Linked DNA regions of Homo sapiens. The protein of the gene in region 2 purifies or fractionates together with the protein of the main gene of each other region. This does not show direct contact. Each region holds a gene or a part of one and is shown on either strand. Other genes may lie near its edges.

Evidence for each region. Proteins that work in one complex are often made in the same cells at the same time.
Region 1: the proteins of CELSR2 (region 2) and TAF1A purify together in Homo sapiens (co-immunoprecipitation; one large-scale study listed by IntAct). This does not show direct contact.
Region 3: the proteins of CELSR2 (region 2) and HTR2C purify together in Homo sapiens (co-immunoprecipitation; one large-scale study listed by IntAct). This does not show direct contact.
Region 4: the proteins of CELSR2 (region 2) and SLC39A4 purify together in Homo sapiens (co-immunoprecipitation; one large-scale study listed by IntAct). This does not show direct contact.

What each region holds. Positions count from the first base shown.
Region 1 is NC_000001.11:222,562,434-222,565,933, reverse strand, and holds part of TAF1A (TATA box-binding protein-associated factor RNA polymerase I subunit A), read left to right. Parts: intron 1-1,808; coding exon 1,809-1,875; intron 1,876-2,637; coding exon 2,638-2,761; intron 2,762-3,500. UniProt on the Homo sapiens protein: Component of the transcription factor SL1/TIF-IB complex, which is involved in the assembly of the PIC (pre-initiation complex) during RNA polymerase I-dependent transcription.
Region 2 is NC_000001.11:109,252,539-109,256,038, forward strand, and holds part of CELSR2 (cadherin EGF LAG seven-pass G-type receptor 2 precursor), read left to right. Parts: coding exon 1-851; intron 852-3,500. UniProt on the Homo sapiens protein: Receptor that may have an important role in cell/cell signaling during nervous system formation.
Region 3 is NC_000023.11:114,590,586-114,594,085, forward strand, and holds part of HTR2C (5-hydroxytryptamine receptor 2C isoform a precursor), read left to right. Parts: intron 1-3,500. UniProt on the Homo sapiens protein: G-protein coupled receptor for 5-hydroxytryptamine (serotonin).
Region 4 is NC_000008.11:144,414,045-144,418,344, reverse strand, and holds the start of SLC39A4 (zinc transporter ZIP4 isoform 2 precursor), read left to right. Parts: upstream 1-1,500; 5' UTR 1,501-1,555; coding exon 1,556-1,747; exon of another isoform or gene 1,748-2,136; coding exon of another isoform or gene 2,137-2,253; coding exon 2,254-2,535; exon of another isoform or gene 2,536-2,925; coding exon 2,926-3,118; exon of another isoform or gene 3,119-3,234; coding exon 3,235-3,371; exon of another isoform or gene 3,372-3,448; coding exon 3,449-3,620; exon of another isoform or gene 3,621-3,723; intron 3,724-3,910; coding exon 3,911-4,083; intron 4,084-4,249; coding exon 4,250-4,300. UniProt on the Homo sapiens protein: Selective transporter that mediates the uptake of Zn(2+). Plays an essential role for dietary zinc uptake from small intestine. The Zn(2+) uniporter activity is regulated by zinc availability.

The DNA of each region.
Region 1 (3,500 bases), about 110 Mb from region 2:
AACTAAGTTTTATAAATTTTTCAACAGGCTTTGTTTTACTAAACAATCCTTTGCTGTTGTTGTTGTTTGAAACAGGGTCTCACTCTGTTGCCCAAGCTGGAGTGCAATGGCATGATCACGTGAGGCTCCCTGTAGCCTCCACCTCCCTGGCTCAGGTGATCCTGCCACCTCAGCCTCCCGAGTAGCTGGGACTACAGGCACACGCCACCATGGCTGGCTAATTTTTTGTATTTTTGGAGAAACAGGGTTTTGCTATGTTGCCCAGGCTGGACTAAACAATACCTTTAAAGTTGCTATTTTTATTTTACTCTCTTAAGATAGCTTTTGGCTCATTTATATTACAAAATATTAAGGATTGTGTTTAAAACAAAAGCAAGACTGTGCTTTCAGGTTATCAATCACTAATGGTGTTTTTGAAAAGATTTTTTAAAATGCTACAGAAAATAACTGTTGAATACTTATCTCATATTTATATTCAAGACAAGATGGATTTAGAGAAATTCTGTTTTTCCTTTTGAAAAATAGGGTATTTGGAATTAAGATCTCAATACATGGGTTTAATAGCAGATTGGACATAGCAAAAGAGAGGATTAATGAACTGCATAGAAAATATCAGGCTAAACCATGGAGAACAAAAAGGATGAAAGGTGCAGAAACGAGCATACAAGTGAATTGGTGAAAAGATCTGACATACCTGTCATTGGAGTCCTAGGTGGAGGACCTCTGAATAGAACAGGGCAAAAGCAAGCAAACTAATTTTTTAAAAACACTGGCATTTGAAGGGCTCATGACTAAGACTTTTTCAAAACAAATGGAGGATTTCTAGTGTTCTGGTGATGTGCTATTATTTGATCTGGGTGCTGGTTACCTGAGTGTTTAACTTTGTGAAAACTGACTGGTGTCATGATTTGTATGCACTTCTACTACATGTTATATTTCAATAGAAAAATCTAAGTGAATTGAGCCATATACAGAATTCTATAAAATCATGAGACAAATGTGACTTTCATAGGAACTGAATTTCAATAATATTCTCTGATATTGGTGTATTGATCTTGATTGATCTTTTTAAAAATGATTAAGAGAAATTAACAAAATTTACTTTTAATTTTGTTGGAAATTATTTCAATGTAAGGTCAAAGTACTTTAGTAAGCAGAATGAATTCATTTCTAGTATTAAATGTATTAAAATGAAAAATACAGCTTTACTTTAAATTCCATTTTTTGAATATTCATAAAAATAGTCCTTCCTATTTTTTAAAAGAAAAATCTTTAATTTTTTCATTGTGTGAAAGGTTGTTAAAATATTTACTCATATAACCTTAGTAAACTGTTCCTGAGCACAATCTGTGAAATTAACTCCCAGCCTTTTTAGCTTTTTTGCTTTATATAAATATTCTGTGATCTCTTCTGTTTAGTAAATAAGTATATTTTCTGTGTGATAATTGATTTTTTTCTTTTTTTCTTCAGTCCTGGCTTCTGAAAGAAATCGTTTTTAGTTGTTGAGCGTGGTAAACAGTATAGATATGTATAAGGAGCAAATAAAAAGTCCCTGCCTATTTTCCTCACTTCTCCTGACTATTTTGTTATCAGGGCCTTTTTTTTTTTTTTTTTTTTAAGACAGCTTTACAGAGAATGCTTTTCTATACTTAGATTGAAACTAGATAAAGAGCCAGGGTATTTTTAAAATACTTAATAAATTTAAAGGGAGCATATTAGACAGTAAGAACTTTATTTTGAAAGTAAGCTGAAATTTGAGAAATGCTTTTACAAGTATGTAAAGATTACAAGACTGTTCTTTCTTTCAGATTTTGTATCAGATTGTACCATCTCATAAATTGATGTTGGAATTCCATACATTACTTAGAAAATCAGGTAATAAATAAATGTTGTTTTATACCTTGTGTAGACAAGCTATAGACTAGGGACCAGCAAACTAGTTTAGCCCATCGGCTAAATCCACCCCTTTCCTGATTTTATAAATCAAGTTCTGTTGGAGTCCATCTGTTTCTGTATTGTCTGCGGCTGCTTTTGCACTATAGTGACAGAGCCGTGTAGTTGTGACAGAGACTGTATGCCTTGCAAAGCTTAAAATATTTATTATCTGGGCCTTTATAGAAAAAGTTTGCCTACTCCTGTTACACAATGTGAAGGCAGTAGTTTGCAAAAGAGAAATGGCTCGATTTTATATAATTCACTCCATTTTAATCCCTGCTACATTTCAGCACACCATAGAAGAGAGCATGCTCCTTCATAGAAGAAAATCAGCTGGCTAAGCCCAAGCTGGTCCTAGGACTGCCTAGGTTCCTCTCTGAATATGAAAGAACATGTATAAAATGCCCAAACAGGGCAGGTACTTTAAATAATGTCCTTAGTAGAGGAGTGTAACCCATATTGAGATCAAATTCACCACCATTACCTCATTAGCAGGGATTTTTATTGAGTTTTTCAGATTCATTGCAGGAGTAAGAGCATAATGAATTTTTAAAAACTGTTAACCAGAAGGCTTATGATTCAGTATTTTATCAACAACATATATGTAAAGTATATATACAGTTGATAAAATGTATACATGTAAATTTTAGCTTTGTACACTTTAATACCTTATGTAAACTTGAACTGTTAAAACCATTGCAGAAAAAGAAGAACACCGTAAACTGGGGTTGGAGGTATTATTTGGAGTCTTAGATTTTGCCGGATGCACTAAGAATATAACTGCTTGGAAATACTTGGCAAAATATCTGAAAAATATCTTAATGGGGTAAGAAACATACAGTGTTTATTACTAGGTCATCATAAATAATATTTCCCAATATTTTAGCTAATATCAATTTTTAAAGATCTTTGCTTATGTTTTATAATTTCTTGAATTGTGTCTTCAGCTGTTTTCTGAGTACATTTTCTTCTGAAGCAAAGAAATACAGAGTCATAAGGAGAACATACAAAAATTCTATCAATTTTTTTATGCCATCAAAATAAATCCTGTACTTAGCACTACTGCTTGCTAAGGAATACGTATGTGTTTTCCATTTGGAAATAAAGACTAGCAGGGATCACTCTTTGCTAAAGACTCTTTGTGATTTGTGCGTCATTAACTTGTAAGATCACATGGGAAGCAGCTTTCCTCCTACCTGTGTTTGATCATTTTCAGTGAGTATTTTTAGGACCTGACAAGATCATCATACACTAGTCATTTAACAAATACTCATTAAATCCATTTTGACCTGGGTATCTAAAAGTGTACCTCTGATCATAATATTGTTAGTGTCACATTTTGAGTAAAAGAAAATGAATTTCCTGTTATTTTTACTTAGTGTGTGAGAAGAAGGGATATTACAAAGTTGTTTCATATATTTATTATATCCAATTTAGTTGTTAGGCAATTCAGTGTCAGTTGGAAATTGTTTCAGGCTTCAGATCTGACTTGTCCCGATGGGACAGTGCTGTTTATAAAATGGTTTTGGTGTCATATGTTGACGCACTCACTGTAAAGCATTTTC
Region 2 (3,500 bases):
CCAGGGCAGTGTCTATGAGGATGTGCCACCCTTCACTAGCGTCCTGCAGATCTCAGCCACTGATCGTGATTCTGGACTTAATGGCAGGGTCTTCTACACCTTCCAAGGAGGCGACGATGGAGACGGTGACTTTATTGTTGAGTCCACGTCAGGCATCGTGCGAACGCTACGGAGGCTGGATCGAGAGAACGTGGCCCAGTATGTCTTGCGGGCATATGCAGTGGACAAGGGGATGCCCCCAGCCCGCACACCTATGGAAGTGACAGTCACTGTGTTGGATGTGAATGACAATCCCCCTGTCTTTGAGCAGGATGAGTTTGATGTGTTTGTGGAAGAGAACAGCCCCATTGGGCTAGCCGTGGCCCGGGTCACAGCCACTGACCCCGATGAAGGCACCAATGCCCAGATTATGTACCAGATTGTGGAGGGCAACATCCCTGAGGTCTTTCAGCTGGACATCTTCTCCGGGGAGCTGACAGCCCTGGTAGACTTAGACTACGAGGACCGGCCTGAGTACGTCCTGGTCATCCAGGCCACGTCAGCTCCTCTGGTGAGCCGGGCTACAGTCCACGTCCGCCTCCTTGACCGCAATGACAACCCACCAGTGCTGGGCAACTTTGAGATCCTTTTCAACAACTATGTCACCAATCGCTCAAGCAGCTTCCCTGGGGGTGCCATTGGCCGAGTACCTGCCCATGACCCTGATATCTCAGATAGTCTGACTTACAGCTTTGAGCGGGGAAATGAACTCAGCCTGGTCCTGCTCAATGCCTCCACGGGTGAGCTGAAGCTAAGCCGCGCACTGGACAACAACCGGCCTCTGGAGGCCATCATGAGCGTGCTGGTGTCAGGTAAGGAAGGGCCCAGGTGGCGCTGGGGTGGGGGTAGCTCGCGGGGATGGTCTGGGCAGCCACTGGAGGTAGGGTGCGATCCAGGAAGCAGCTACAGATCCACCTCCCTGCCCAGTGCCTGGCACAGAGCAGGAGGGGCAAGAGCCAGCTTGGGAAGAAGCCCCAGGAACCCTGGCGGCTGGTGCAGGCCCCACCTTCTGCTGGGCTGGGCTGGGCTGCTTCGGTTGGCTGCCCCCACTGTCTACCAGCCTGTGACGTGGTCGGGGAAGTGTTGTGAGGCTGCCCCGGCTATGGCTGCCAAGAATTGTGAAAAAAGGCGCGTGGAAGCCTGGGGGGCCAGGAGAGCTGGGGGAAGGGCAGAGAGGACTGTGGCGCAGGAGAGGAGGCGAGGCCAGGGCCCCTTCACCCCCATCAAGATATTCCTGCAGTCTCACACAGCCTTTGGCAGAGCTGGGGACCACGGGAGCACAGGGCTGCCGCCACCCAGGGGTCAGGACCCTGTAGTCCTCTTCTGGCCCCTTTTGCCTCCTGGCTGAGCTGCAGAATCGGCTGACAGGGACTTTGTCTAGCGCATTCTTTTCCCTCCAGGCAGAAAGAGCCTGGCCTGGCTCCCCCTTCAGAGCTCCCACAGGAAGTGAGGCCAGAGCTCATTGTCTGTCCAAACAGACCCCACTTTCAGAGTCCGTGGTTCGGGTCTGGCTTGGAGGAGGGGCTGCAATGAAGCTGGGGGGCAGGCTGAGGCCTCGTGGGCCCCCCTTGCCACCTCATGGGCTGTTCTTAGGGTGCCAGGCCTTCCTTTCCTGCTAGCTGTGACCAGCCCAAGCTCCAGGAATGGAGTGTAGGGACCAGGACAGGCCAGTGGACTGGTGAGCTTTGAGGGCAGAGACCCCAAGGCACCTTATCTGAGGAGAGAACAGAGTCCCAGGGCGTGGGAGCCTGGCCGGAACCCAGGCTGGGGCATTCCTGCTGCTTGGCCAAGCACTCAGCCTACAGACTCCCTGGACAGCAGGGCTGGGGGAGGAGAGTTGGAGGGGGTTGGTGACAGTATTCTGTCTTTTTTTATCAGCTGTGGGGAGCCAGAGGTAGCAGCAGGGAGAAGACCACACCCAAGTTGCTGAGTGCCTTCCCCAAGCCTGGGAACAACTGAGACCCTCATGAGGGGATGCTGTTAGCTGCACCCCAGGGGTGGATCAGGTCACATCCCCTCTAGGCAGCCTTCAAATCCATCAGGGAAGGGAGGAAAAGAAGAGGCTGGCAGGCCCCTACTCCCACCCCAGGGAGTGTGGCCTGAAGGGGAAGGAGGGGTATGCCAGAGTCAGGGCGTGGCCTCACTCAGGGTCCTTGCTGGACAGATGCCTCCCTGCCCCACCCTTCAAAGTAGCCACAGGAACCAGGAAGCAGGAGCTTTTCAGGGACTGTGGCTGAGGTTCTGAGCCTCCTGAGACTTCAGTTTCCCCTCCAGGAGGCGGAAGAGGGAGGCTGGAGCTCCTGTGTCCTCAACTGTGCCTGGGCACTTGAGACAAGTGGGAAGGAGGTGGGAAGGAGGGCCTCTCCCTCTGGTCCTCCACACCCAGCCTGCCTTTGGTGAGCGTGGCCAGGCACTGGCAGAGAAGCGCCCCCATTAAGCCTTCGGTCTCCCACCAGGGCAGAGCCCTAGACCTTGGTTCCCTAGTCTAGAGAAGGCTCGGGGCAACATCCAGGACGGCTCCTCCTGGCCCGGCAGCTCTGGCCCCACCCTCTCCCTTCGGCCCTGACCCTTGGAGGCAGTCACCACGGCAACCCCAAAGTTCAGGGAGGCCGGGGTGAGGGGGAGCTGACTCCCACTGCCCCTTTGTTTTCCTCCTCTTGTTCTTTGTCTCTTCTTTCTTTCCCGCCCCTGCCCATGCGGAGCCCTGCAGCACTGCCTCTCTCCGGTGCCCTCTCCCTGCTCCTGCGGCTCTCCGGCTCTCCCACTTGCCCATTGCTGGCTCCTCTCCTGAGGCTTTGTCTTCCCCTGTTTGGTCTCCGTGTTTGTGCCTCCACTCTCTTCCCTATGGCTGCAGCTGCCCCAGCCTGGGCCGATGGCTCCCCTGGAGGCTGAATTCTCCTCGCCTCTTTCTTCCTCTGCTCAGACACGCAGCAGCTCCTGTCCATGGTCTGGGCAGCTCCCAGAACAGCAGAGCCCTCTTGGCCTCCAGTCTCCGCTGGCACATCTGCCAGGGGAAGAGAGGCTGGGAGGCTGACCGGGACCTGGCACTTTTCCAGGTGTGCCTGGCTAAGCTTGGGACACAGGTGGCATTTCCTGGGGTCAGAGGCCATCCCAGCTGTTCCTTTTCTGTCCAGGAAGACAGCTCAGGCAACGTACTCCCCACCCCTGTTCCCATCCTGCCTTTGCACCTGAGGGGTGACCTAGGTCAAGGCAGGGGAGGGTGATATAGAAAGGAGAGAGCAGTGGGTTGACTGTTGGGGATGGGGGACAACAGCAGAGGGGGCAGGTGGCCACAGATGGTGGACCAGATGGGAAGCAACAGAGACATGCTGGGAGAGGGGCCCAGGCGGGGCCTAAGACGATGGCGGTGGGGGACACAGGGAGAAGTGTTTGTTCCCAGGGCTGAGGGGTGGCAAAGTTTCTCCCGCTCCATGGCCTTGGTTGCCCCCTCTCCTCTCTTA
Region 3 (3,500 bases), on a different chromosome or scaffold from region 2:
GAAGGAAGAGCTAAAATAGAATTTTTAGCACATCTGCACAATAATATTCAAGAATTCAAGGCATCTAACAGAATAACAGTTTCCCCTGAAATGATTTCAGGTAATTTCTCTGAACATATTTTAGGGCAATAAAAATATTATAAATCTTCTTAAATTAGTTTAGCTAAAGCTTAGCCCTACCACACTGTTTTATTTTCCATTTCACAGTGAAATACACCATTATATATACATATATGAGAGAGAGACCATTTCATTGACCACATGCATGGCTATAGAATTCTCTTTTTATTAGCAAACTGAGTTCTGCACCCATTTTGCGGTATGGGTTGATGGCTCAGAAAGAAGCGCAAGTTTTCTTTTTAAAATAGCAATTCCTAAATGCCTTTGCAGCAAATAAACTTGTAAATAAGAGCTTTATTTCCTTCCTTTTTATACTGTTAAAGGAAATCAGACATTAGTATTAATGAATTGCTCTGAGTGATCACGTCATGAATCTATTAGTTTTTTTTATCTTAATTAAACAGTTAATTTAATGCTTTGTGGCTTGTGGGTAGATTGTTCTAGCATTTTTGGTTGGTCAATGACTCCCAGAGGTCTAATAGGCCTGTATCTTTTAGTTTTAAATGTAATGTTAGTCTAAAATAGATTCAGAAAGAAGTTGATTACTTCATTCTTGAAGGAAGTAAAACAAGGAAGATCTGGTGTCTCTCCAACAAATATTTTTTGAAACTTCATTTTGAAAAAGCAGAAATGAGCTGGTTTCTCAATAGATTTATTTATTTAGTCATTTCATCATACCTCTATATCTATTTTTAAAATCACTATGTAAATGGAAAAGAACTTGTATGGTAGAATTATGCGCCCAAATGACTATTCATTGATACAATGACTTGCTCTCCAAAGTATTATTTAAGTTAGCAAGGGCAGATTCTTTAGTTTGGAGGATTATTACCCACCTCTCACTGGGTAACTGTCTGTGTCAAATTTTCCTGCTTCTACTACCAAACCTCAGCCAATTTCCTAAATTTCACGTAAGTAAATCTATAAAATTCACTGTCCATATTTATCTGCCAAATTAGTGAACTGTAAGATGAAGATGAATAAAGAAAAGCCTGTAAGAATTATGGAATTTCAGCAATGGCTTAGTTGAAATTCAGCAAGAGAATTTCAGTTGAGGGCTTAATGTACATTTAACACTTTGTTGGATGCTAATGAGGTGAAAAACATATTCTACAATACTTCCCTAAGGAAACAAATAAGTACTGTTAGACAGTAAAGGCAATTCAATGTAATAATGTAGTTTTGCAATTTATGGTATAGGCAACATTGATTTCTCTCTTTCCTACTCTCTCACTCAGGATGAATGAAGAAAAAAATGGTCCAGTCATTTGCTTAACTCAGGCCTCAGTTTCCACAACTCCAAAATGAGAGCCTTATACTAGGTAATCTTTCTGTAAGGATCCTTCAAACTAACCTCTTTGTTATAAACAGATACAGAATACAGAAACCACTGAGGTTATATGACTGACTTCCCTAAGGTTACAAATATAGAGTCACAAATTGTATAATATATAAAATGGGGAAGAGAACATGGAGAAAACTCCCACAAATTTTATTAGGTTGGTTCAAAAGTAATTGTAGTTTTCACCATTGTGGTTTTCACCGCAATTACTTTTGCACCAACCTAATTCAGAATTTAAAAGTGAAAAACATTTGAATGCTGAGAAGATAATACATTGTTATAAAGTAATTTGAATTTTTACCATAGATTTATACTTTACTTTGGGTAAGTGCCATTTTCAGAAAGGCAGCCAAATTTGTACAAACATAGTGGATATTCTGAGTCTCTTGATTGAGAATGAAGCAACAAGATCAAATAAAAGTTCATTTGTTTCTCTAGTATAATACAGAATACATTTATCACAACACTTATAGAGTGAGAAATTATTAAAAAAACACTCTATCCCTTCTCCCAGATTTCTTTAATTTCTTATGATAATTGAAATAATGCTTGTCCTTCCTACCTTGGATTCATTCGTGGATAACTTTTCTTAATTATTCCCCATTTCAGTCCATTAATACAGCTTCAGAATTATTTCTGAAAAATGTTGTTCAAATGTGCCACCTTTTAAATTCCATTGTGATTATAGACTCTTAGGGTTAGTAATTGAAAGCTCATTTCAGACAACTCCCTATCTCATGTTTGAACTCTGCACATCTCCCACTCTCTTTACAATGGCACCAAATAATGCTACCCAATTCCTGGGCAGAGCATAGATAAGGCTAAAAGTTGTCAGCTACCAAAGTAGCTGCTGAATATCAGAATGAAACCCAGGGACTCTAAAGTGGGTTATGAAGTGATGAGCTTCAGCTAACAGGGAACATTAGGAAATGACTGCAGACAAATCCTCATGCTTAATTCAGAGAAAGATGTACGGTTTGATTGGAGGGGGTGAGGAAGAAGGATATCATACAGACTATAAAGCCAAGAAGCAATGCTTAGAATGCAAATGTGTTATAATTTTGTGTGTGCAGTGTAAAAAGACTACTGGCCATATTTTAAAAAGTCATCTAGGTTACACTCACATACTTAAGAACACCAGAATTTCCATTTTAAATTTTAAGAAAATAGACATAATTGTTTGCACCTCTTACATGGCACTTAGCACATTGTATTACATTGTTTTTTCCTTAGATATGGAGTCTTGCTATGTTGCCAAAGCTGACCTTGAACTCCTGGGCTCAAGCGAACCTACTGCCTCAGCCTCCTGATTAGCTGGGACCACAGGTGCATGCCACTGCACCTGGCTTCTATCGCATTTTATTTTTATTACTTGGTTTTTAACTTATACTTTAGAGGCAGGCCTGGTGTTAAAGGTTTTACATGCATCACGTCACTTTTAAATTTGAGTCTTATCTTTCCTACTGGATTATAAATTCACATGGAACAAAGATTATAATTTATTCATGTTTATACTCCCCAGCTACCGTTTGCATATATCATTACATATTGTGGCTTCTCTCAACATATATTTGCTGAATAATTAATATACAAAAAGACACAAGCACTGTGGGAAAGGTATTTATAGTGCAAATTTGGAGTTAACTAGAACCTAAGTTCTAGTCTGTTATAAGCCTCTATGTCCTCCTCCGCCAAAAGAGAAAATCAGACTGGATGGTTACTGAGATAATTTCAAATGCTACAACTTTAAGAAAATATCAACAGTTTCTAATTCTGAAAATCCACTTCAAATAATAATACTCAGGTAGTTGATTTTATGCCCCAGAAGATTAATGGTTATGACTCTTCAGCTACTTAAGTAATTCTTATAAAATCTCAAGTCAATATTCACTTCAGGTCTCTAACTTGTCATTTTCCATTCACTCCAGTGCCCTACATTTGAAATGATTCATGTCTTAAAGATTTCTGAGTGATTGAAGACATGTCTTCTTTTTGTCTTTTGTTATTTAAAGTAAATTTAAGATATCTTTGGCTATTA
Region 4 (4,300 bases), on a different chromosome or scaffold from region 2:
CATCTTCAGGCTGTGTGTAGAGCAGCCCCCTCATGGTCCTGGGACCCAGAAATCATCTGCACCCCCAGCAGGCTCTGCACCCCCGGCAGGATCTGCACCCCCGGCAGGCTCCCCTAAGGGCCCCCAGAAGGATACCACTGCGGGTGGGCCCAGCCAGAGGAGCACCATGAGATCCGCTTGGTGGGGTGAGGCCGGCAGGGGAAGCACCCTGACCCCAGGACACTGGGCTCAATGCCCGCCCTGCCCCGTCCCACCCTGTGTATGGCGGGACAGAGTCCTTGGGCCTCAGGCACCCAGCTCCCCACCCCAGCCCCACCCACAATGCTCAGGGTCAGGCTGGCTGGACCGGGCGGGAGGTGGCATCTGGACTCCCCCTTCAGAAGGCAAAGCTGCCCTGAGATCTGCCTTCCCCTTCCCCCAGACTTCCTGCCATCACCACCACGGTAGAGATAAGGCCTCTAGGCTCAAAGGCCAGAGAGGGAGCCCACAGAGAGGGCAGGGCTGGGAGCCACAGCCTCCCTGCCCCCGGGGCTAGAGCTGGGGTCTTGCCCCAATCTTATCCTGACCCAAGCTCGGCCAGGTGGCTGCCAGGGCCCAGCTCCGTCTTCCTGTTTGTCTGTGTTGGAGCTTCCTGGGGCTGTCTCCGGCCTAAGGGAGCATGATGCAGCAGGCACCTTTTCAGTTTCTTTGACTCCATCGCAGTCCCCAACAGGGACCACAGCCCAGGACCCAGGAGGAGGGAGGTCCATGTCCCCACCCCCAACAGGGGCCACCGAGGGTGTCTGGGCAGCCTCTGTTGGGAGGGGCAGAGGCAGGGACCTGGGAGCTCTCAGGCTCTGGGGGCATCTGTGCACCTCTGCCCTGTGTCCCCCAGCTTGGAGGCAGCCCCCAGATGGACAGCCAGAAGGGGACACCCCAGCCCTGCCCCACAGCTTGGGGGGCAGCAGGCAGAGGACAGAAGCCCACCCAGGCTGGCCTGGCGTGGTGAGCCACGCCGGTAATCCCAGCACTTTGGGAGGCCAAGGCGGGCGAATCACCTGAGGTTGGGAGTTCAAGACCAGCCTGACCAACATGGAGAAACACTGTCTCTACTAAAAATACAAAAGTAACCGGGCGTGGTGGCGCTGCCTGTAATCCCAGCTACTCGGGAGGCTGAGGCAGGAGAAGCACTTGAACCCGGGAGGCGGAGGTTGCCGTGAGCCAAGATCACGCCATTGCACTCCAGCCTGGGCAGCAAGAGCAAAACTCCAACTCGAAAAAAAAAAGACCACCGAGGCTGCCTGTCCAGGGGAAGGGGCCCAGCCCTCGACCCCCACAGGCAGTGGCTCCAGGCTGTTGGGGAGGATCTGCCACTGGAATGGTTAACCCAGGCATCTCCAGCAGCCAATCACAGAGCTCTGCAGGAATACCTGGGAGAGGTCCTCATGCAGCCCGGGCGGGTCCTAGCCCAGCCCCAGTCTGGCCCTGGACAACCCCAGCAAAGCCGCCCTCAGCCAGCCCAGAAGCACTGGGCCTTGGCCACAGCAACACCCACTGAGCACGCTGGGAGCTGAGTATGGCGTCCCTGGTCTCGCTGGAGCTGGGGCTGCTTCTGGCTGTGCTGGTGGTGACGGCGACGGCGTCCCCGCCTGCTGGTCTGCTGAGCCTGCTCACCTCTGGCCAGGGCGCTCTGGATCAAGAGGCTCTGGGCGGCCTGTTAAATACGCTGGCGGACCGTGTGCACTGCGCCAACGGGCCGTGTGGAAAGGTAACAGCCCCACCCGACGGGTCCCCCAGCCCTGGCCTCTTCCCGCCAGCTCCGCCCTGCCAGCCGGCAGCAAAGGGCCCTGGGCAAACTCCAGGAGGCGGAGGAGGCTAGTGGCAGTACCTGGGCACCCTGACCCTCCCCACAGGCCAGAGCCCACCCTCCTGCTCATGAGGGCAGACAGGCCTTTCCAGGGACACAGTCCCTCTTCTCCCCAGGACCCCAGGGCCAACTCCCCCTGCCGGCCCTCTGCCATCAAATTGGCAGTGGCTCCAGGGGAGTCCCCTGGGGATGGGGGACCACTGTTGGGGACCCCTCTGCGTGCACCCCTGTAGTTGGGGAAGCAGGACAGGGGCCTGGGGAGACGGAAGGGCGCCAGGGGTTGAGAGAGGATGGTGGACGTTGTTGGACTTGAAAGGGAAACAGGCCCTCGGGGAAGCCCCTGGCCAGGCCTGCCTCTCCCCTCCCTGGTGGGCCCAGCGCCCCTGCTCACTTGTCTCTGCCCACAGTGCCTGTCTGTGGAGGACGCCCTGGGCCTGGGCGAGCCTGAGGGGTCAGGGCTGCCCCCGGGCCCGGTCCTGGAGGCCAGGTACGTCGCCCGCCTCAGTGCCGCCGCCGTCCTGTACCTCAGCAACCCCGAGGGCACCTGTGAGGACGCTCGGGCTGGCCTCTGGGCCTCTCATGCAGACCACCTCCTGGCCCTGCTCGAGAGCCCCAAGGCCCTGACCCCGGGCCTGAGCTGGCTGCTGCAGAGGATGCAGGCCCGGGCTGCCGGCCAGACCCCCAAGATGGTGAGGGAGAGTCCAGGCAGACCAGGGGAGTGGGTGAGGAGGGTCCCACGGCCCATGGGACCCGGCCTGGCTGCAAAGCCTTCGGGGAGCCTGGGGGCCTGGGGAGACGCCCAGGAGTCGGCCTGCGGCTGGGGATTCACAACGTGGGGCTCACTACTGGGCAGTTGGGAGCCTGTAGGAGCCCCGGGAGGGACCTCATGAGGGAGGAACCCAGAGGCCTGAGTGGGAGCCTGAAGCAGCTGGGCCCGGCAGGGAGGGCTGTGGCTCCAGGGAGGGGCGGGGCTGGTGGGGGCAGATCCTGTAGTTGGGGTGGGAGATGCATCCAGGGGCAGCGGGGTGGATGGCAGAAGGTCACACCAAAGGCTGAGGCGGAGGCCCCCTCTTCCCCAGGCCTGCGTAGATATCCCTCAGCTGCTGGAGGAGGCGGTGGGGGCGGGGGCTCCGGGCAGTGCTGGCGGCGTCCTGGCTGCCCTGCTGGACCATGTCAGGAGCGGGTCTTGCTTCCACGCCTTGCCGAGCCCTCAGTACTTCGTGGACTTTGTGTTCCAGCAGCACAGCAGCGAGGTCCCTATGACGCTGGCCGGTGAGGCCTGGGCTGGGCTGTGGAGGGGGGCACCCCCGAGTCCCCAGCCTCCACGTCCCTGGGGGGCAGGGCCGGAGCCCACACAGACTCGCGGTGCCAACTCTTCTCCCTGCCAGAGCTGTCAGCCTTGATGCAGCGCCTGGGGGTGGGCAGGGAGGCCCACAGTGACCACAGTCATCGGCACAGGGGAGCCAGCAGCCGGGACCCTGTGCCCCTCATCAGCTCCAGCAACAGCTCCAGTGTGTGGGACACGGTGAGCTGCGCCCTGGGGTAAGATGGGGCCTCACCGGGGTCTGCTTGGGCCCCTGAGCCTGTCCTGCCACCCCCCAGGTATGCCTGAGTGCCAGGGACGTGATGGCTGCATATGGACTGTCGGAACAGGCTGGGGTGACCCCGGAGGCCTGGGCCCAACTGAGCCCTGCCCTGCTCCAACAGCAGCTGAGTGGAGCCTGCACCTCCCAGTCCAGGCCCCCCGTCCAGGACCAGCTCAGCCAGTCAGAGAGTGAGTGCCCACGCCGACATTGTGCTGGCAGCACAGAGGTGGAGCCCGTGTAGGAAGGAAGGAGTGGCTGCCCAGGATGAGGGATGGAGAGAGTGAGCAGGGGCTGGAAGTAGAAACAACAGACACAGGGGAAGGTGGCGTCGCCAGGAGAGTGGGGCTTTGAGGCAGGAGGGTCAGCCTGAGTGAGGGCCTGGCCCACACTGACGGCCTGCAGCTCTGGTGAGCAGCGCCCGGGAAGCAGGGGCTGAGTCTGGAAGAAAAGCTCTCACAGCCGCCTCACCCGCCCCCAGGGTATCTGTACGGCTCCCTGGCCACGCTGCTCATCTGCCTCTGCGCGGTCTTTGGCCTCCTGCTGCTGACCTGCACTGGCTGCAGGGGGGTCACCCACTACATCCTGCAGACCTTCCTGAGCCTGGCAGTGGGTGCAGTCACTGGGGACGCTGTCCTGCATCTGACGCCCAAGGTCTGCCCCCACAAACCCGCGACCCTGGCCCTCCGTTCCCCACCATGGACTCCCAGGCCGTGCCCTCCCAGGGACCTTACCCACCCCACCTCCTGACCCCTCTCCCTGGGTCTTGGTGGGAGGCGCCCTGGGACCTCCCCCCCAGCCCAGCGCCCCTACTCCCCAGGTGCTGGGGCTGCATACACACAGCGAAGAGGGCCTCAGCCCACAGCCCACC